Linked DNA regions of Homo sapiens. The protein of the gene in region 2 interacts with the protein of the main gene of each other region in a biochemical or structural test. Each region holds a gene or a part of one and is shown on either strand. Other genes may lie near its edges. The genes, in order: ST14 and IGFBP7.

Region 1 (11,102 bases), on a different chromosome or scaffold from region 2:
GTGACTGGGAAGCAGCAGAAGGCAGCCGCCAACAACAGACGGCCCCGGACACCCCGCCCCACCCGTGAGCGCCCACGCCCTGGAACGGCGCAACATCGCCACCGTGTGGCCGTCGACCTGAACAACAGCTTCTCAGCCCCTGGGGTCCGTAGCGCTAGGTCTCTGGAGACCTCCAAACTGGGCCCAGGATTTTAAACATTTCCTTTTCCATAAAGTCCTTCCTAATCCAAATTTCACTGTGATTCCTGCAGACTCTAGGTCTGAGTAGGACTCGCCATGGCTGCAATAAGCAGGAGTCGGGTTAAATTTTCATTAAATTTACATGGTTATGATTCCTAGCTAAAACAATGGCGATACAAGGTAGTTTAGGGGGATCAGAGAGTTGGATCATCTTGAGATCTCAGCAACGAAAGCAGCTAGTCAGTAGGGGAAAGCCTCTGCGGGGCTGCACTGAGCTTGTGGGAGCGCAGCAGCAGCCCTGCACTCTTCCCCTGTGAGGCCAGCTTGCTGTGCAGGGCACCTGTGCACGTGGGGCCCTCAGCCTGGCCCTCCCACCTCCTCCTCTAACCCTTCAGACCTCTGCTGTGGCCTTCACCTGGGTGAAGGAAAGGCTGGTCAGCACAGACCTACGCAGGCCTCTGGCCTCTCCCAGCTGCTGCAGGTCTGGACTGCCATCCTCAGCAAGGAGGAATGGCTCTAGCCTGCTGGTATTCCCACCCTGTCAGCTCAGGCTCTTGGACCAGAGACTTCTGCCTTCGTGAGAGCTATCGGCGCGGGGCCTGCGTGATGTGTCTGGCCTCTGGCGAGTTAGGGAGTCTCAGCCTGATCTTCTGAACTCCAGCCAGAAGTAACACAGGATTTGGCCCCATAATCTTTTTAAAGGCACTGACACATGATTGATTTTCCAGGGCTCAAATGCTTCTCGACATTCAGGCAGGCTTCCAGGATCCCCCAAGGACCAAGGATGTCCTGCAAACTGCGGCTCTGGGCATCTGATGGAGCACCTGGTGATGCTGCTGCTCCGTGGCACTTGGAATGGCATGACCCACTGCTAAAACGGTGCTCTCCAACCTCACAGGAACGCTTCTTAGAGCACAGGCCACTGGCCCCACCCAGCGGGCCCACCAGTTTCTGTTCAGGAGGTCTGGATGAAGCATGAGACTCTGCACCTATGAGTCCCAGGAGATCTCGATATTCCTGCCCAGGGACCTCCCGAGAGAAACACTGCCACAGACGACACGCCTTGTCCCACTCAGACCTCCCGCAGAGAGTCCCGGAAAGGGTGGGATGACCCTGAAGGCTAGCCATCTGTGTTTTCACCTGCTCCCCGGGTGGGAATCTGACCGGGGGGAGTGAGCAGTCCAGAACACTGTCAAGCCACAATGGAGCTGAGGGTGGTGCAGTGGCACGGGCTGGGCTGGCCTCCCTGAATCCCACTGCATGGATGACCATGTCTACACCCCGGCCAAGCCCCGGCTGCCAGGCTCACGCACACTTAGGAACCAGACCACACACAGGCCTCGTGAAACCTCTCCATTTAACATAGACCATTCCCTCAGCGCCTGCACTGGGCACTTCTGTCCGATGCGATCAGGTGGGAATGACCATGTCAGGGCAGAAAAGGAATGACATTTACAACACGCACAGGAGTCCTTCAGCATCATCCTCATTCTACTTCCCACGCCTTGGTAAGAACAGATGTTCTTTCCCTCCCCAGGGAGGAAAATGCGACAGATTCTCGCACAGGTTCTAGGCAACACTCCCTCCCTCAAAGAGGTAAAACACTCAGGCTAAAATGAAAGAGGCTCTGCAAACCCCACCTCCCCCGAGAAGCCTTGCAGTGTTGCTCCAATCAGACTATATTTCCTCCTTTTTGTTTCCATAACTCATGGCAGGCAAAAAACCATTCATTGAACAAACACATATCAGCATGTTCTAAGACAAGCCTGAGCTGGGGACATAGCGGTGAGCCAAGGCTACCTTCTGCCCTCCTGACACTGGCCATGTCATTTCTCTCCCCAGGTCCTCTTCCCTGCCCCAAGCCCATGTGGCGCATCAGCATACAAGAAGCCCTCAAATGTTCCCCCAAAAGCTCCCTAAGCCTTCCCCAGATTGTTGACATTGTCCCTTCAGGCCACCAAGCAAGAAGAGAGGAAATATTTTAAATTATTAAGTAAAAATCTAGGGAGGCTGGGGGTGGTGGCTCAGCACGAGCCCAACACGGGAAGATGACTTGAGCCCAGGAGTTCGAGACCAGCCTGGGAAACATAGTGAGACCCTGTCTGTACAAAAAAAAAAAAACAACTTAGCCAGGTGTGGTGGTGGGCACCTCTAGTCCCAGCTGCTCAGGAGGCTGAGGCAGGAGGATAGCTTGAGCCCAGGAGACTGAGGCTGCAATGAACTGTGATCATGTCACTGCATTCCAGCCTGGGTGACAGAGCAAGACCCTGACTCAAAAAAAAAAAAAAAAGAAAAAAGAAAAAATCAAGGGGGATGGCACGGGAGGTGTGGGTGCCCTTCAGCCAGGCAGCACCCCTCCTCCAAGGCCTTGGGACCCATCTGCTCAGCCTTCACTAGAGAGACAGCCAGGTCTTCATGCCCAGACTCACATCTGTCCCCGTGAGTGTGTGCGCTCACAGGGCCACCTCCCCACCAAACACGAAGCCACGCTTCCGCCCATCTTCCTCTGACAAAGCTCCTCCCTCTCCTAGGTTGGACCCAGGCCTGGGCACCAGTGCACCCCCCAACATTCGTCTCCCCACCTCGCCAACCCGCATTTCCCTCCTACCAGGGCACCAGGCCCCTGGTCTTGGAAGCTACAGGTCAGAGCAAAACCAGCCCCTTGCTGGCCTAGAGAAGGCAACGGCACTGTGGGCCCCACCCAGCCTGACTCCAGGGTCTGTGCTGAGGGGAATGTACATCCAATTTCTTGCAAATCGAGTAGGAAAAAGGAGGAAGGAGGGCGCAACTCCAGTAGGAAAAGAAACTTACCTAAAAAGAAATAAAATGTTTTACTCATTTACACAAATACACACACTGAAGTCCACCCTGGGAGCTGGTAAAACAATTTCAGTCTCAGACCCGTCTGTTTTCCAGGGTCCTCCGAGCCTGGGCTTCCTCAAGAGCGTGGCCCAAGGGCCCCACAGCCCAGATCCGGCAGCCCCACCACCTTCACTGAGGAGGCCCCGAAGCTCCGTTCCCGCTGCTCCTTAGAGACAGGGGAGGCAGATATGCACAAACGCGCCTCGGCCCAGCTTGGGGCTGGCGGGGGAGGCTGTGTCTTCAAACCTTTGCCCCCAGTTGGGTCAGTAGAACCACCAGTGTCCTCCCCTTCTACCTCCCAGCTCCACTTTGGAGGCTGAGGAAGCGAGAGGTTTTCTAGGCAGATTTGGAGCCCTGGAGATTGAGTTCACAGTGTATGTTCTGGGGGCGCTGGTGCAGTCAGCGGTCCAGTCTCCAGCCTGCAGGCGTGCACACTGGGGTGGACGATGGGTGGCCCCGCAGGTGTACACATTTGGGTGGCCCCGGCCCCTATACCCCAGTGTTCTCTTTGATCCAGTCCCGAAACAGAGGGAGCCTTGTGTACACGCCTGGCTTGTTCCTCTGAGCGCAGCCGTCTCCCCAGCTCACCACACCGGCCTGGAAGATCCGCCCATCCGCCTCCACGCTGGACAGGGGTCCCCCGGAATCACCCTGGGCGGAGACAAGCCCTGCCGTGAGTCCCCAGTCCCGCCTCTCCCGGGGCCCACCTGCCGCCCTCCTGCCCCGGGGGCCACCTGGCAGGAGTCCACGCCGCCGCTGAGGAAGCCCACGCACATCATGCGCGGCGTGATCTGCTGCGGCAGGAGGTTCTCGCAGGTGGTCTGGTTGATGACGCGGATCTCACCCTTTTGCAGGATCAGCGCGCCAGTGCCTGGGGAGAGGGCAGGACGGGGCTGAGAGCCGGGCTGCTTCGAGGGCAGCGTCATTCGAGACGCTCCCCACGGGTCATTGGACTAGAAAACTCTGGAACAGCCCAGATGCCCGGGGCTGACAAACGGGTAATCCGCGTCTACTCAGTGGGCTCTGGCAATAGCAGCCACCTAGAGGAAGCAGGGGCATGCTGAGATCTGCCAGGCGAGTTGAGAGGGAACAGACGCCGTGGCAAGCAGGGGTGAGGGAACAAGAAGCAGAGAGGCGGAGGGAAGGCGCCGCAAATGCCCGCGGGGTTCTGTGAGGGCATTGGAGCTGTAAGTCCTGTTCGTTTTCTTTCCTCTCCAAAGACGACAAATGTTCAGCATATGCTGTACAGTGGATTCTTTCAATCTAGCATTTGCCAACTAACGGCCTGCTTCCCTTCATACCCACCCCCTCACGTGCCTTAAGCACCACTGGGCTTAAGGTGTTGCTATCTTCATTACGCGCATGCACAAACAGGATCAGAGCTTAAGCAACTCGCTCAAGGTCACTCAGCTAGTTAGGGGCAAAGCCAACCTTCAATCCTGAGCCCAGGCTGCAAATCCCATGCCCCTTTTACTAAAGGCCTCCATTCCGCCCTGGACAGCCTCATTCTGCCAGGCAGAGGGAGACTGGAGCAGCCCCCCGCCCCGAGACCGGACACGCAGAGGAAACACGGCCTTGGAGAAAGGCCCCAGGCCCTCTGCGGAGCCCTAGGTCAGCCCGAAGCTTACCTCCATACTGGGTGTGTCCCCAGCCCGTGACCCAGATGGCCTTGCCGGCAGGGAAGACATGGGAGGCGTCCGGCAGGCAGATGGGCCGCACCATGGAGCTGTACTCTGCCGGTTTCTCCAGCTCCAGCAGCGCGATGTCATAGTCGAAGGTGAAGTCATTGAAGAAGGGGTGGGAGATGATGCGCTTGAGCCTGCGCTCCTGCACCCCAGGGGCGCTGCGCTGGCTCTGGTCGTGCAAGCCCAGGAAGGCCGTCCACTGCGTGGGGTCTGAGTACCTGGTAGGGAGAGCCGCTATGAGACTGCGCGGTCACTCGGGTCTGTGCACACGGCCTCGCGGCCCCGCGCGTTCCCAGAGGATTCCGCATGGATGAGGCACAGCTGCTGCTACGAGAAGACGATGGGGCCGGCTCTTACTTGGTCTTGACCCTAAGCTAGAAACTACTAAGTGCCTCCAGCTGCAGTATGAAATCCCTCTTGAACTCTTTACCCCCCCTTCCTTGAATACATTTTTAATCTGATGACCAAAAATTAGTTATCTTACGAACCTGATCTTTCACAGGAGGAATAACAGAACAATCAATCCAAATAATTTATTTATTTATTTATTTATTGAGACTGAGTCTCGCTCTGTCACCCAGACTGGAGTGCGGTGGTGGCATGATCTCGGCTCACTGCAATCTCCACCTCCCGAGTTCAAGCGATTATCCTGCCTCAGCCTCTTGAGTAGCTGGGATTACAAGTGCACACCACCACACCCAGCTAATTTTTGTATTTTTAATAGAGACGGGATTTCATCATGGTGGTCAGGCTGGTCTCGATCTCCTGACCTTGTGATCCGCCCGCCTCGGCCTCCCAAAGCGCTGGGATTACAGGCGTGAGCCACCACGCCCAGCCCAAATAAATTTTTAATGTAGTGCTATATAACCTAAGACCAAAATGAATTGAAAAATATGTTGTGTTGTGTCTAAGTTTGTTGCTGGCTATGGAATAGGTTTAGCAATTCAGAAGCTTTTCCACGTGCACTGCAGAGCCGGAGCCCACCCCACTGGGGGGAAAGGGAGGCACAGATGTGGAATGAGATCAGAGATATCAGGAAAGGTTCATGGTTTTTATTTTATTTTATTATTATTTTTTGAGACGAAGTCTCACTCTGTCACCCAGGCTGGAGTACAGAGGTGTGATCTCAGTTCACTGTAACCTGCACCTACCAGGTTCAAGCGATTCTCCTGCCTCAGCCTCCCGAGTAGCTGGGACTACAGGCATGTGCAGCCACGCCTGGCTAATTTTTGTATTTTTAGTGGAAACGGGGTTTCGCCATGTTAGCCAAGCTGGTCTCAAACTCCTGACCTCAAACGACCAGCCCACCTTGGCCTCCCAAAGTGCTGGAATTACAGGCATAAGCCACCGTGCCCGCTGGCTCACAATTCTTAAAAACTGGCCTAAAACCAATACTGTCTCCAGCAGCACCCAGAACTTAGTGTCTAAATATCCTTCTCTATTGAAAGGAACCAGGGCTCCTTGGAAAAACAGCTGATTTCGGATCTGGGGCTTAATGGGAAGCATAAAGCAACCTGGAACATTTTGTTTCTGCAGGAAGCGATCGAGCACTCAAACAGCAATGCGGCCTCACAAAGCTGGCTAAAGTTAGGACAATAAGAACCCCGAAATAAGTGGTGACAGGGTGACACTACTACACAGGTGGAATAATAAAAAAGGGTGGGGTAATCCATCAGTCCACCCTGAGTCTAAAAAGTAATTTCAAAAGAATTTATACAGGGAAAAGGAAAGCTATTCTTTACAGAGAAAAAGCAGCCCCTGGCCGGGCATGGTGGCTCACTCCTGTAATCCAAGCACTTTGGGAGGCCGAGGTGGGTGGATCGCCTGAGGTTAGGAGTTCAAGACCAGCCTGGCCAGCATGGTGAAACCCCGCCTCTACCAAAAACACAAAAATTAGCCAGGTGTGGTGGCCGGTGCCTGTAATCCCAGCTACTCAGGAGGCTGAGGCAGGAGAATTGCTTGAACCCAGGAGGCAGAGGTTGCAGTGAGCCAAGATCGCACCACTGAACTCCAGCCTGGGCAACACAGTGAGACCCCACCTCAAAAAAGAAAAAAAAAAAGAAAAGAAAAGAGAAAGAGAAAGAAAGAAAGAGTGAGCAGCCCCTAAATGCTGAAGAAACGGTACAATAAGGAACCACATTCGCGCCTGCCACAATAATAATCAACAATGTGAGAATCACCAACGGACGCTGAGACGCCGGGCAAAGTACGGCTGGAGAACGAGACACTCACGCTGATTCAAAGAATCACCTGCAGTGTAGTCACGACCAAGGGGGAAGCCCCTTTATGATGGCGAAACCTGTTGGGCGTCCCGAGCCAGGTGCTCAGCCTCCTCTCCCGACCAGCCCCCTTCACGGGGGATCCTGCTCTCCCCGAGTAGGGTACAGCACCGCCCGCGCACTGCTTCCTAACTCAGCCATGAAAACACAGTCGGGAAAACCCAAATTGAGAGGCATCCTGTAAGATAACTGGCCCGAACTTTTCAAAAATGTCAATGCCATAAAAAACCAAAAAATAAAAGGCGTAGAGAAACTGTTCTTGATTAAAATGAGGTTAAAGAAACCTAATGACTAAATACAAGGCGTGACCCTTGACTGCATCCTAGGACTTTTTTTAAAAAGCTCCGAAGAAGGCTGGGCATGGTGGCTCACGCCTGTAATCCTAGCACTTTGGGAGCCCCAGGCGAGAGGATCACAAGGTTGGGAGTTTGAGACCAGCCTGGCCAACGTGGTGAAACCCCGTCTCTACTAAAAATACAAAAATTAGCCAGGCGTGGTGGCAGGTGCCTGTAATTCCAGCTACTCAGGAGACTGAGGCAAGAGAATCACCTGAACCTGGGAGGTGGAGGTTGCAGTGAGCTTAGATTGTGCCACTGCACTCCAGACTGGGCGAAAGAGTGCGTCTCAAAAAAAAAAACAAAAAAAAAAACGTCTAAAGAAGAACATGATGGGCATGATTGGAGGACATTTATGACGCGTACGTCAGCTCGCAGCACAAAGCAATGCCGCCATTTCTCAGTGTGGGACAGCATCCGTGTTTTTGGAGACACAGGCCGAGGCACCTGGTGGGAAGCCTCACAATGGCTGCCCCCAGTTGGGAAATGGTTCTGAAAAATACATGCGGGTGCAAACAGAGAGAAAGCAAACGTGATTAACTCAATCACTGAATGTAGATCAAAGGTATAAGAGTGTTCACTGTACAGCCAGGTGCGGTGGCTCACACCTGTAATCCCAGCACTTTGGGAGGCCAAGGCATGGGGGGATCACGAGGTCACGAGTTCGAGACCAGGCAGGCCACCATGGTGAAACCCCATCTCCACTAAAAATACAAAAATTTAGCCGGGCAAGGTGGCGCACACCTGTAGTCCCAGCTACTCCGGAGGCTGAGGCAGGAGAATTGCTTGAAGCCGGGAGGCAGAGGTTGCAGTGAGCTGAGATCACGCTGCTGCACTCCAGCCTGGGGACAGAGTGAGACTCTGTCTCAAAAAAAAAAGTGTTCACTGTACTAGTCCTTTTTTTCATTCATTGTATTTACAACATTTTTGTAGGTTTGAAAAATTTCAAAATAAAACATTGGAAAAATACATATTTAAAATAGAAAATGTGCGTGACAAGAGAAAGGCATGAAGACCCGCTTCATTTTCCCTCACCTCTCAGGAAGGTCAAAAGGTTACTGAACCACCCAGCCAGGGCACCTCCCCGACCCCGGAGCACTAAACCCAGCCTCTGCCTCCACATCACTCGCGTGCCCACCCGAGCCCTGGTCCACTCTCACTGCCCCAGCGTCCATCACCTTCTGGCCTTTCTTTTTTCTTGAGATGGAGTCTTACTCTGTTGCCTAGGCTGGAGTGTAGTGGCATGATCTTGGCTCACCACAACCTCCGCCTCCCAGACTCAAGCGATCCTCCCACCTCAGCCGCCCCCAAGTAGCTGGGAGTGCAGGTGCATGCCACCATGCTCAGCTAATTTTTGTATTTTTAGTAGAAATGGGGTTTCACCATGTTGGTCAGGCTGGTCTCGAACTCCTGACCTCAGGTGATCTGCCTGCTTCGGCTTCCCAAAGTGCTGGGATTATAGGCATGAGCCACCGCGCCAGGCCCCCTTCTGGCCTTTCTTACAGCCACCTCCCCACGGAATCGCACGCCAAGGCCAAAGCTCAGTTTTCCAACCTAGGCTATGCCCAATCTCGCTTCACTGTAATCTGTTGCCACCAGAAAATGACTTCCCAAAAGCTGTTTTTGTGAGATCCTTTGCGTCCCATTCCACAGCCTAAAAGAATTCCCAAGAGTTGCCAGGTGAGGTCTTGTGACCCACCCAGGCCTTCTGCGTTCACTGTTAATCGACCTGACCTTTCTAACAGTTTCCCAGCCTGCTCACATCCAGCCACGTACTCAACCCCCATCAACTCATTCACTCAACAATCTCTGGGCATCTGTGATGCGATCTATGACCCAGCCTTCAGGTTCACAGTGTACATGTGGAGAGATATGAAAACCACCAATTACAGCGTGACAAGAAGGGTCCCACAGAGGACTGGGTAGAAAGCTGTGGGAGAGGATGGGCTGGGAGTCCGGAAACGAAGTGAGTTATGAACCAAGCCTCGACATCACGTAGGCCTGGCCACCTATGGCCTGAAGGGGTGGAGAATGCCGCATGTTTAAAGAGAACAAAGGTGGCCGGGCGTGGTGGCTCACACCTTATAATCCCAGCACTTTGGGAGGCCAAGGCAGGCAGATCACCCGTGGTCAGGAGTTCAAGACCAGCCTGGCTAACATGGTGAAACCCCGTTTCTACTAAAAGTACAAAAAATTAGCCGGGCACGGTGGCGCATGCCTGTAATTCCAGCTACTCGGGAGGGTGAGGCAGGAGAATTGCTTGAACCCGGGAGGCGGAGGTTGCAGTGAGCTGAGATCGCGCCATTGCACTCCAGCCTGGGCAACAAAAGTGAAACTCGGTCTCAAAAAAAAAGAAAAAAGAGCAAAGGCACATTTAGGAAACCCTCACACTGAGCATGGGGAAGGCATGAGGACTGCACTGGAGACTGAGACTGCACGGACGGGCAGGGGCCAGATAACGTGGCCGTGTCGGTCGTGAAGGAGTTCCTGCTTTATACTGCAAGCCGTGGCAGGCGCTGAAGCAAGAGATTGGGGTGATCAGATTTGGGGAAGGCCCCTCTGGGCTCGAGTGGTGCAGACCAGAGTCCTGAGAGGGAAGGAAGTAGATGGGGAGGGTGCTGCAGCTGCCCAGGCTACAGTGAGCTAGGACGAGCAAGGTGGTGGCAGTGCAGATAGAAGAGAGTAGAGATGTTTCAGGAACACCCAGGAGGCGAGCATGTAGCTGAAAGGGTCTCATGGGACGGGGGAGAGGGGAGAGCCATCCTTGTCCCTCTAGCTCAATTCCCCGTGACCCCAACACTCAGCATGGACACCCCCATCCAGCTCTTTGCCCTGTGCCTGCGGGTTTCCACCTCCCTCCTCCAAGCCCGCCCTGTTCACCTGGCGACCTCAGCTCAAGACCCCGCTTTCATGAAGCCCTGTCTGCAAACCCAGCCAATCGGTAAGTCTGACAGTATTTGATTCTATCAGCAGACTCAGCCTCTAACGTTTAAGGCATGCACGTCTACCAGCAGCTGAGAGACTGATTGTGAAGATGCAGCCACTGATATCCCCCATGGTGACCCCAGGGGCTGGAGTGCAGTTGGGAATCGCTAGTGCTCAGGTAGAACTTCTGATGTCCCAAGCACAATTCTCGATGCTGACACAGTAAGTTGTTTTATCCCTGAAACAGTCCTGTGAGGTAGGGTCGCGCTTTTTAAGATGAGGACTCAAGCACAGAGAGGGCAACTTGCCGAAGATCATATAGCTAACACGCTGTAGACCACAACTGCAACCTAGGCAGCCTGTGCATTTAACCGCAACGTGATGCCGCCTCCCGGCAGTGCCCAATGAATGCATGATGACTTAGCCATGTGCTCAGGGTCCCTTGACACCATGCCCCTGCACATCTCACACCTCCCTGCCTCTGCACACGACACTCCCTTTGTCTGGAAGGTCTGAGCCACCTGGTCCAGCTGACAGACACCCTCACCTTCAACCCTCAGTTCAGACACCCATGTTGAGTGTTCCCAACAGTCACCCCCCGAGTCCCTCAGGCATATGGGTTTAGAATTCTAAACTCCACATGCTGGGCCCAAGGGAGCCTGGACACAGCCCTGCCACAGCACTTACTGCACATGTGTGTCATGTCTTGTCCCTACCCTTACAAGTCTGTGACCCACAATCTGCAGGGACCAAGTCCTATTCATGTTGGTCTCTCTAGTGTCAATAGTAACCAGGGGTGTTGAAGATTAATTGCACTACTCGTTGGCAGAAGCATG
Region 2 (12,021 bases):
CTTCAAACCTACACTGTATTTTCTCAGCTTTATGATGCCAGGACTGGGATTCAGCAAACCACATGTGATCTAGGCCAATTCCTGCTCTAGAAAAAATATCTTGCATGATTTGGAAAGCCTGGCTTTTTGCATTTTTTTTCTGGAATTTTCCCACATTGCCACTATTAGTGAGAGAAAACCACGTAACTTAATGTCTTTCTCATAAATGCTGTGAAGACAAACATACTCAATAGGTACCTTTTCCCTTAGTTTCCCAAGTAGCTGGCAGAAACGGTTTATGCTAATACAGCTTTTGAAATAGTTACTTAAAAATGGGTTGTAAGAATATTTTGGTAGAAGTATTAATTTGATCCAAGGTCTCAAGTAATATGACTCTGACCTTTATTTACTGAATTTCAGAATCATATGAGTTTTATGTGTGACCAAAGCAAGAAAATAAACACTGCAGCACTGAAATACTGAATCTCAGCAACTAAGCCTCAAATCCCATAGCTCTTAGTAACAGCATTTTATGCTAATTAACCTGATCCACTATGGAAAGGGAAATGTATCTTGTTAAATATAATATTTAACATAAATCACAATATAGATATACTTTATTTTTCCCTTCTTTTCACAAGTGTTGGCATGGCGTATTTTAATTAATGTTACGTAATTATAAAAGGTTATACATCATGTAGAAAACATAGAAAAAAGTGCCAAGAATTTTCATATGACAAATTTTTATATGTCAAACTCTCCCTTATTCGTGTAAGGGGATTCTAAGTGTTGTTAAGTATGTGTTTTCTTTTTTTTTTGAGACAGAGTCTCGCTCTGTCACCCAGGGTGGAGTGCAGTGGTGCGATCTCAGCTCACTGCAACCTCTGCCTCCGCCTCCGGGATTCCAGTGATTCTCCTGCCTCAGCTTCCCGAGTAGCTGGGATTACAGGCATGTGCCACCACGCCTGGCTAATTTTTATAGTTTTAGTAGAGACGGGGTTTTGCCATATTGGCCAGGGTGGTCTCGAACTCCTGACCTTAAGTGATCCACTTGCCTTGGCCTCCCAAAGTGCTGGGATTACAGGCATGAGCCACTGTGCCTGGCCAATAAATATGTGTTTTCTAGTTAAAATTGGAATTAAAACTAAAAAAGAGAGGTTAATATTCAGTGCTAGTAAAGATGCAGAGAAATGGCACTTCTCCATTTCTGGTGGGAGTGTGAATTACTACAATCTATTTAGAAAGTAATCTGACAATGTCTGTTAACACTGAAACAAATATTTTGACTTAGGTAACTGTTGGGGAATCTATCTTATAGCAATACAATCACTAGTATGTATGATATGTGTACTTTGATGCTTAAAGTAGGTTTTTTAAGTTAACAAAAATTTGGAAACAACAGAAAAAATACAGAACTGATTTAATAAATTACAGTATTCATACTTGGAATATTACGTAGCTGTTGAGAAGCAGACTTGGACGGATGTCCATGAAGTATTTGTTGAGAAAAGCGAGTTTCAGAATAATTTACTGGCACACTATATTCTCATTTCACCGTAGGGATATATGTTTGAATATGCTTGGATATGAAAAAGAGTGTGGAAAGATACAAACCAGGGCAGTTCACATTGGTTACCTCAGGCAGGAGGAGGAGGTGGGGGGAGATTCTCAACTCTTTCTTTATACGTCTTTGGATAATTTCTGCTTATTACTATTACCTTAGAGGTCACTATTTTTGATTAAAAAATATTCTTAGAGGTCAAGGAAGCCCTAATCTGAAGAAATATTCAGGCAAGAAAAGAATTAAACAGAGAGCCTCTCCGTCTCAGAAACAAATATTGGGAAGGTGTTTTGCTTTCGCTGTGAGCATCATCTTTGATTTAAAAGGGTTAAGTCAAATATGGCTATTTCAGTTCACGTTCCCATTTCAAAATATTGCCCTTCGAATCTTTCTAGGCTAGGAGTTTGCTGAAAGGTATGGGGCTTGTTAAAGCCAGCTTTCCTTACTACCAGTAAGGAAAGTAAAGACCACTCGCCAGGCTGTGCCAACCGTAAGAATTGCCACCGTAGTCTCAAGTGTCATGGAGAAAAGGCTTGTACCATTAATTCTGCTGTTGCTAAGAATCCTTGAGCAAGAAGGACATGCTGTCTTTATTTGAGCCTCAGTTTCTCTTGTTTTACAAGTGAGGATTCTAATAATCTATCCAAAAAGGTGTTCTACTCTTAAATTGGATTTGAAACACACATGATAGTAAATATGTTTGTATTCTTAACAGTCTGGTTACAAGGACAGCGATGAGAAAACAAATACCCTGTTTAATTATTTAGGTCAGTGACTTCCCAAGTTTCCTTAGTTTTGACATGGACCAAACTATCGTATATCTGGAATATACAAAAGTTTTAGGAAATGACACCTTCATAAGTGGTAAGTGTGATGCCTTAACATAGGTTCTGTTCTATTTTTTATTTTTTATAAGAACATGGTGGTTGTGATCGCTACATTAGTTCCAGGAGTCACTGATGGGTCATGGTCTGCAGTGTAAGAAACATTGCTTTGGGTCATGCATGTGGCAAATTACATTATGAAGGTAGAGGAAAACCGGCAGAGCATCACAGTTGGGTTTTGCTTGTTCTGGAAAGTCTGCAGAAAAAATTGTTTCTCTCCTACTTCCTCTTCACTTCTTTACTTCAGCACCCATCTCGTTGACTGACATAGTGGGTTTTTTGGTTTTTTTTTTCAGAGACAGGATCTTGCTCTGTTGCCCAGGCTGGAGTGCAGTGGTGCCATCATAGCTCACTGCAGCCCCACCTTTTGAGCTCAAGCGATCCTCCCACCTCAGCCTCCCGAGTGGCTAGGGACTACAGGTGCGAGCCACCACACCAGCCTCAACTGCCTTGGTGTTTCTGACTAGCCCTGAGGACAAGCACTCAGGGAGGCCTTGTCTATTGGGATCTGCCCTGTACAGTCCTAAAAGGGAAAAGATTCCCGAGGCAGACGTATTCCTCTGGTATGTGAATACTGTAGCTGGGATTGGGTAGAGCAAGGACTGAAGAAATTATTCTTTGCCAAGATTTGCCAATAAGGTCACATGCCCCAGGACGCTTGGGTGACCCTCGCTTCTCATTGTGTAAGTATCCCTAGAAAACTGTAGAGAACTGCAACGGAGCTTTTCATGGGTATTCCTCGGAACATTATTTCTCCACCTCCCCACACCCTGAGCAAACCAGCAATCTCCAAATTAGCAGTGAGGAACGCCTGCAGTTCTTGCAGTAAGGATGGAGGGGAACCCATCCACGGACTGCATTTCTGCTCTTACTCTTGCTCCGCCTTCCTCTTAAAAACATAACTGATCGGGGTGAAATTTTATTGCTCCTTTAAGAGAAGCTTCACTGTAAAGGATGGTATAGTAGTGTTGCCTCTGCCATCACCCCCACCTCAGGCATTTTCTGGTACCTGTTCCCAGATTTTACACAAACCAGGCGGATTCACGCCGGTGCCAATGTCAGTGGCCGCATCCCTCCGGCCGCATGGGGGAGCCAGAGCTTAGCAGGTGACCCGACCTGGGCTTGAGCCCTTCGTGGGATTTTCACAATGCAGCAGGGAGAAGGGAAGCCCTTTCTTTCCTCTGGGGTCTTTAAGCTGTAATAAAAATGTGAGTGGAGTTGATATCTCCCACTGCATAGGAAGCTTTCTGAAGCAGAAGAAAATGAGACTAGTATATTGAGAGCAAAGAGTCAAGAGTTAGAGTTCTGATGGCGTGTGTACCTGGATGCAGGGGCCCTTGAGGCTGGATCCCGCCCCGCTTTTTGTTTTGCCTAGGCTGGTTTCAAATGGGCTGGTAGAACTTGCAACAGAAAGAGCTCCGACTGCGGGAGCCACAGTCCTCCTGGAGTTCTAGAAGTTGCTTCTCCGGTCACACAGAGAGCAAACAAAATAGTCAAGGGAGACTATCATCCACCTTAGAGCTTGCTGGAGAAGTAAGGCAGCTTAAAATGGATGTCTGGTTATGCCCTTTTACTTAAACTAAGTTCCTTTTTTGGTAGCATGAGTTTGATAATTTTTTAATTTTTATTTTTCGTAGGATAGTTGTGAGGCTCAGCAATTCAAAATGTATAAAAAGGACAAAAACGACCAGGCGCGGTGGCTCACACCTGTAATCCTAGCACTTTGGGAGGGCAAGGTGGGCGTATCACCTGAGGTCGGGAGTTCGAGACCAGCCTGACCAACATGGAGAAACCCTGTCTCTACTGAAAATACAAAGTTAGCCAGGCGTGGTGGCGGGTGCCTGTAATCCCAACTACTTGAGAGACTGAGGCAGAAGAATCACTTGAACCCGGGAGGCGAGGTTGCGGTGAGCCGAGATGGTGCCATTGCACTCCAGCCTGGGCAATAAGAGTGAAACTATGTCTCAAAAAAAAAAAAAAAAAAAAAAAGACAAAAACGTAAGTGTATGGTATAATTGTGAGGTGTTAGTTGATGGCAAATAAGTGTTTTCTTTTCCCTTCTCCATACATGCTGAGATGATGTTGTCCTTCAAATATGAAGATAATTATACAAGATAATGCCACTTGAAGGGAAAAATTTCCAGGAACAGTAGCTAATGTCTACTGAGTGCTAACTATGTATCAAGTAATTTTTACTTGCATTACTTTATTTCATCTTTATGATAATTACATGCTACTTTTATAAGGTAGAGAACAGAGTTGAGGCTAACAGCAGTGGTTTTCAGTCCAGGGCAATTCCCCAGCTCCACACCCTTAGGGGACATTTGGCAATGTCTGAAGATGCTTTTAATTCTCACGACAGGGGGGATGGGGGAATGCTACTGTTATATAGTGGGTAGAGGCTGGGGATACTGCTAAACATCTTCCAAAGCACAGGCAGCCCGCACAACAAATAATTATCTGGCCCCAAATGTCAATAGTGCTGAGGCTGAGAAACCCTGACTTGCAGAGAACTCAGCCACCCTGGCTAAGGAATTCACACTCTTTTTTTTTTTTTTTTTTTTGAGACAGGCTAGAGTGCAGTGGGGCAATCACAGCTCACTGCAGCCTCAATCTCCTGGCTCAAGGGGTTCTTCCACCTTAGTCTCCTGAGTAGCTGGGGCCACAGGCATGCCTCACCATGCCCAGCTAATTAAAAAAATTATTTGTAAGAAGGAAGTCTCACTGTGTTGGTCAGGCTGGTCTCAAACTCCAGGACTCAAGTGATCCTCCTGCCTCAGCCTCCCAAAGTGCTGGGATTACAGGCATGTGCTACTGCACCCAGCCTCACACTTTTTTTTTTCTTTTTTTCCATTTGGGAAGTCATTTCAAAGCTGATTTATTAAAAGAATATCATGCTTTTTCCACTTGGGGCTGGGGCCAGCATTTAGCAAAATTCAGAAAGGAGACATTTTTTTCTTTGCTATTCCTCCTCTTGTTCCTTTTTAATGCTCTGTTCTGGAGTGGTCTCCTCTGTCCCTAACTTATGGTTCTACAGCCTTGGTACTTAGGAGAATAGATCCCACCTCATTCCTTCTATCCTACTTCCAAGTGCCCTTAAAATGTACTCATCCATCTCCCAGCACTTAGGGAATCTGAAAAAATAATCCATGCTCCCAGGAGAAGGCTACAGGGCTTTGTGTCCTTTTACCTTCTTAGCCGAGCCTCCCAGTAAAATAATAATAATGCCTCCAAGCAGACAGGATCTAAATTATCAGCTAAATGTTCAGTCTTAAATGAGGAGACTGATGCCATCACAAACAGCTTGGTGGGGGCTTGGAGGTGGTATTTTGGGACAGAAAGAGAGAAACGTACGCTTTTAACCCCTATGCTATACTGTCTCCACTGAGGGCGCAAACACAGACACACACACTTTCACTCGCACCCACATATGCACACACATACACACACCACAGGTGCACACACACCCTGAAGGTGGGTTCAGGTGTTCAGCATTATTGTTCTTCCAGTTTCTCAGATTCTAGGATGCTGCTAACAAAAGCATGGCAGGGACTGGTTTTTGTTCCATGAATCCAGGGGAGGGGCCTGTATGACTGCCCTAAGGCTTCACCTTGCGGGAGCCGCAGTCAACAAAGCAGGCTGAGGATTTAACGTTTTACCATCCTTGTGCAGTGCAAGAGAAGCTTGTCAGCCTAGGATGTCTCTTAAAGTCTGTGCCACAGACCTTGTTCCAGATGAGGACAGGTGTCGGGATTCCGATGACCTCACAGCTCAAGTACACCTGGGCACCAGTGACATTCCAGATGTCCTTGGGGGGCGTCACTATGGAAGGACCTGCAGGAGAGGGCACAAAGCCAAAGTCATCTTTTAAACAGTCCTTCACATGAGTCAGCATCTTAGGGAGAAAATAATAATTTTGTTTATGAGGCCATCCCCTTGATGGATTATCTGAAGCAAATTTCAAAGACCACACTGGCTTCCTCCTGCCACCAACATGATTTTAAGGTCCACTTTGGGAATGCATAAATCTAAACAAACAAAAACAATTAGGAAGAAAAATGTGTTATTAAAATTTTCTTCTTCCCCAGACCATGCTTAAATGAGTGCTAATTTACCAGCTGTTTTTTTATTATCTGGGACTTTTCCAGTAGTAATAAAATTTTAGTTCCAAAATGTTCAATGTTTTTCTTCTTTTGTTTACCACTATTTCTATTTTGGGTTGGAAAGGCAACAAGCAACCGCTCCATGGGTAATGAAGAAAAAAAATCTAAGAGAATATTTGAAAATGTGCTAAGCACCCAGACAAGATGGAAGTCTCTGCCTCAAGAAGCTTAGGATCTAAGGTTGAAAAGGGTGATGAGGCAGGGAAGAAAAGAAACATGTGGAGTGCTGTGTGCGTCAGGGGATTGGAAGGGACATCTTTATTTTTAATTTAATTTTATTATTATTTTTTTGATACAGAATCTCATTCTGCCACCCAGGCTGGAGCGCAGTGGCTTGATCATAGCTCACTGCAGCCTCAAACTCCTGGTCTCCAGCGATCCTCCCACCCCAGCCTCCCGAGTAGCTGGGACTATAGGCGTGCACCACCATGTCAGTTAATTTTTATTTTTTATTTTTGTAGAGACGGGGTCTTGCTATGTTGCCCAGGCTGGTCCCGAATTCCTGGCTTCAAGTAATTCTCCTGCCTCAGCCTCCCCAACTGCTGGGATTACAGGTGTGAGCCACCATGCCTGGCCAGGAGGCACCTTTGAACAGAAGAGGCCCGGGTGTCGAGGAAGGTGGTACAGGGGTCCTTCTTCCAGTGTGCTCAGGAGAGGCAGCTGGTAAGAAGGAAGAAGAGTGACTGATCTATTGGGTGTGACCAGGGTCCCCAAGGAGAGGGCCCTTTCCCAGCGTTCTCAGTGTCCAGGTCCCTGGCAGGAGGCATTGGCAAGTGGGGGGCACCCTCAAGCCACGGCCTAAATAGAGTCAGCAGGTATGGGGCCACTGAGAGAGGCCAGAATGATGCTTCTCCATTCCCCCAATTAGGGAACACACCCCCCACCTTCTGTATCATGGCACCCTCTGGAGAAGTTCCCTACTCAGAGTCAACACAAACCATGTGTATCCTTTTTGCTATGAAAGTGGTATGACTCTCTGGTCCTGGGTTAGCTAACTATGGCCTGTGGGCCAAATCTGGCCTGCCATCTGTTTTTGCATGGCTTATGAGCTAAGAATGGTGTTTGGATTTTTGTTTTTTTAAATTAAGAAAAATTTTATTTTTTTGAGACAGAACCTTACTCTGTTGCTCAGGCTGGAGTGCAGTGGCATGATCTTGGCTCACGGCAACCTCCGCCTCCCGGGTTCAAGCTCAAGCAATTCCCATGACTCAGTCTCCCAAGTAGCTAGGACTACAAGTGCATGCCCAGCTAATTTTTGTGTTTTCAGTAGAAACAGCATTTTGCCACGTTGGCCAGGCTGGTCTCGAACCCCTGAGCTCAAGCGATCCCCCCACCTTGGCCTCCCAAAGTGTTGGGATTACAGGCGTGAGCCACTATGCCCGGCCTGCAGTTTCAAATGGTTGAAAAAAAATTAAAAGATGGATATTTCATGACGTGTGAAAATTGTAAAGGAAATGTCCATAAAATAAAGTTCTGTTGGAACACAGCCACACTTATTTGTTTCCTGTGGTCTCTGGCTGCTAGAGCAGTTGTGGCTGAGACTGTATGGCTAAAATAGTCACTGTCACTGGCCTTTTATAAAGAAATTTGCTGATTCCTGCTCTAATCAACTGAGGGAGACTGATGCCTAAATAAGACATTATGGGAAAGTCTCAGGACTTCAATCCTTTACACATTTTCCAGAGCTGATGCAAGTAACCCCCTGGGTGATTTCTGGTTTGGCTCTGAAACACAAAACTGTGGAAGCCAACAGATACCGAGAGAGCGGGTGCTTGCTGACTGCGCCTGTCCCCTGACGGCCTGGCTTCCCGGCATCTGCAATAGAGATGTGAACACCAACTTTTTAGTTACTGGTAATTAGTATGTCACTTCTGCTAATTCTGAATGCCAGGGTTCAATCACCAGGGGCCTTCAGAAAGACTTGGGACCGTCCGCAGAGGAGGGTCATGGAGCTGGCAGTCTGGGATCCTCATGTGGGGCAGTGTGAGACTCCAGAACCTAACCTGGCTCTTATTCCATGCTTAGCATGGTTTCTTGAATGAATAAATTAATGATCCCTTCTGAATTTTAAATCTCTGCTGACTTGGGTCTCCTATCCTAGCAAAGTACAAACTGCAGGGTCATCTTGCATCAGAGTCCTGGGAAAGGGACAACCTCCCCTTTAGGACTGGAAAGTTTTCTGGCATAATCAGCATTCAAAGGACATAAAGTCTCCCCTTCTGCAACAGGCTATTTCCAGCACAATATTAATTTCTTGAAACAGAAAGGAAATGACCCCAGTGTGCAAGATTTTCCCACTCATCTAAAGCATTAGAAGCTGATTTTTTTTAATCTCATGGGATATTTTTATTTTTGTAGGAATGTGCAAAACAATCAAAAGTTTGGAAAGCTCTAAATACATTTCATGCTTCCTTCCCTCCAAACCATAGGTCTGAATAGGAAGCATATATCCTGGCCAGGGGGCTTGGCTCTTCTGCTGCAAACATGAATGTGGTGAGCACAGTGGTGCAGTATTTACGTTTCTGGCTCTGTCTCAGACATTTCCTAGTCTGGATGCAGCAATACAGAACCCTGCAAAGGGCTGGGCCTCACCCTATCCCGGGCTTCCTCTAGGGCTATGGGACCCCAAGGGTTTGGACACCACAGAGCCGGATCTGGCTGGGCTTTGAACTGCCTTCGCCCACCTCTCTGATGGCCCTCATGCTGCTCTGTTCTCCTTCCCACACACAGACTTGGCAGGAGGACTTCAAAGCTCAGGGGATCTCAAAGGATTGTTCTGAGAAGAGCATACCAGTTTTCAGAGATTTGAGGGGGAGCTCGGGAACAAAGCTGCTTCTCTCATATCCAAACCACACAAGGAATGCAAGACAATTTTATTGTGAGGATCTGAGGGCCTCAGCCCTGCCAAAACCTACTTACTTTAACCTGTGTCCATCTCCCTATTGCCAATACAGGTAGCAGGGTCATCGGTCTTGGGCAGGGGGCAGATTCTGGAGTGCTAATGGGCAAGTTCCAGCCTGATTTTCTGCCAGAGATCTTGAAGACATGCTATGGATTTTTCCCATGGGATTTTAAAACAGATGTTCTTAGTTTTAGTATAGTCCAATTTATCAAGTTTTCTTTTCTGTGGTTAGTGCTTTTCGTGTCCTGTTTAAGAAAATTTTTGCCTAGCCCAAGGCTATGAAGATCTCCTGTTTTCTTCTACAAGCTTTATGGTTTTACTTTTCACATTTAAGTTTTTGCTCCATCTTGAATTAATTTTTGTGTGTGCTATGAGGCAGAGGTCAAGTTTCATTTTTCCTCCCCTAAAAGGACATCCAATTGCTTCAGCACCATTTGTTGAAAAGACCATCTTTTTCCTAATGAATCATAATAATGCCTTTGTGGAAATCTGTAAGACCCACTGTATATGTGTGCGTCTATTTCTGGACTCTCTGTTCTTTTCCACTGGTCTATGTGTCTATCTTTGCACCAATAACTATGGCATAATTTAGAAATTAATTGTACTAAAGTTGAAGCACTAAATAGAGGGCAGATCTAATATATCTGTTCCCCCCCAATCATCTTACTATTCCAAGAAGCAGAACACTCTAGGACAAGTAAGAATTCTTTTTTTATTTTTATTTTTGTAGAGACAGAGTCTTGCTATGTTGACTAGGCTGGTCTCAAACTCGTGGGCTCAAGTAATCCTCTTACTTCAGCCTCCCAAAGTACTGGGATTATGGGTGTTAGCAACAGTGCCCAGCCATGAATTCTTTAAAAATACCTGAACCCAGGAATACTTTGAATGACAGCCATCGTCAGGGGATTCAATATTAGGACAAATCATATCATGGGTTCCTATTTCTCTCTCCCAATGCTTGGAATACCTTAGGTAAACAGGCTGAGTCAACATTTGGATTATTCTAAGAATGTAAATGATTTTGTCAATCCTGCCACCAGGCTATTTCTAGAATTCTACAAGACTTCCATACCACAAAAATCTATAATATCCACTGACTCCTGCTGGGGTGATGTAGTGGAAGGGCAGAGGAGGGGCTGTTAGGACCAGTTTGCTGCACAACATTTACAAAAACCTTTGACTATTTCAAATATCCTTGAACAAATGCTGGGTTTACTAACACAATGAAAAGTTTAACAAACAATACGTAAACTGGAAAGTGCTAAGAAATAAGGCTACAGAACGGCCTTTTGGTTTTGAGATGCAGTCTCTTGCAAAGGAAAGTCACATCAATAAATTATTAGTGTAATATTCAAGGGACCAAACAGACCTCTTAGAGTACATGGAGGCGGGTTGGCCTCCACGTGACTTCCTGTGTTGGAAGAATCTGTAGGGATTCAACATTCTTTCCAGTACTTTCTTCAGAGCTGATACCCAGTAGGATACCTATTTACTAAGCTCTGATTGGTTCTTTACCACTTACCTGGTCTGGAAATTCCCCCAGAATATGCAGAGGGAATGGAAAAACTCCTTTTTTTTTTTTTTAGATGGAGTTTTGCACTTGTTGCCCAGGGTGCAATGGTGTGATCTCGGCTCACTGCAACCTCTGCCTCGTGGGTTCAAGCGATCCTCCTGCCTCAGCCTCCCAAGTAGCTGGAATTACAGGTGCTCGCCACCATGCCTGGCTAATTTTTGTATTTTTAGTAGAGATGGGGTTTCACCATGTTGGCCAGGCTGGTCTTGAACCCCTGACCTCAGGTGATCTGCCCACCTCAGTCTCCCAAAGTGCTGGGATTACAGGTGTGAGCCACTGCACGCGACCAAAATCTCTTGATAAAAGCAAATTACAGAAGTTTTAGAGAAAGGTAAATGAAGATACATGGTGAGAAAGAATAAGCAAGCGACTTAATGGTGACCCACAGGGACACCAAGAGGACAAGTCTTGTATAGAAGAGAAGAGATGCTGAAAATGTTTTCGGTGGATACAATGCCAGCCCCAACAATGCTGCACTCTCCTCCCCGACTCTCAAGAACTATCATCCCACACATTCCATTGATCAGCAATTTCACTGCCAACAATCATCTTGAATTGCAGGTCTGTCCTGCAATTCAATCCCTGACAGTTCTGTTCTACCTCAGGAGAGCACTGTACTCAATGACTCTGTACCAAATAACTTCTAACTCTTTCCACTCTACCTTTCTTCCAAGAAGGGCAAGGCAGATCGAGAATTTATTTCTGTTTTTAAGAATAAAGAAATTTTTAGGTCACTCTGAGCTAATTTTCTCATACAGAAAGCTCAAAATCAGTCCTCAAGGCCAGGTCAAGGGTAATAACAACATTATCATCTAACTCATACTCAGTGTTTGGATTCCGTTTAAAACAGGTCACAGAATTCTTAAATGTATAGGGACAAACATCAGGATAGGTCCAATTATTTATTTATCCTTGCCCTTGTTCCATTAAGAGCTCCAGACTGCTCAAACATCTGTCTA

The links.
Region 1: of the proteins of IGFBP7 (region 2) and ST14, one has a biochemical effect on the other in vitro, tested with the Homo sapiens proteins (one study listed by IntAct).

What each region holds. Positions count from the first base shown.
Region 1 is NC_000011.10:130,202,253-130,213,354, reverse strand, and holds the end of ST14 (suppressor of tumorigenicity 14 protein), read right to left. Parts: intron 4,946-11,102; coding exon 4,671-4,945; intron 3,914-4,670; coding exon 3,777-3,913; intron 3,694-3,776; coding exon 3,532-3,693; 3' UTR 2,993-3,531; downstream 1-2,992. UniProt on the Homo sapiens protein: Exhibits trypsin-like activity as defined by cleavage of synthetic substrates with Arg or Lys as the P1 site. Involved in the terminal differentiation of keratinocytes through prostasin (PRSS8) activation and filaggrin (FLG) processing.
Region 2 is NC_000004.12:57,034,676-57,046,696, forward strand, and holds part of IGFBP7 (insulin-like growth factor-binding protein 7 isoform 1 precursor), read right to left. Parts: intron 6,259-12,021; coding exon 6,149-6,258; intron 1-6,148. UniProt on the Homo sapiens protein: Binds IGF1 and IGF2 with a relatively low affinity. Stimulates prostacyclin (PGI2) production. Stimulates cell adhesion. Acts as a ligand for CD93 to play a role in angiogenesis.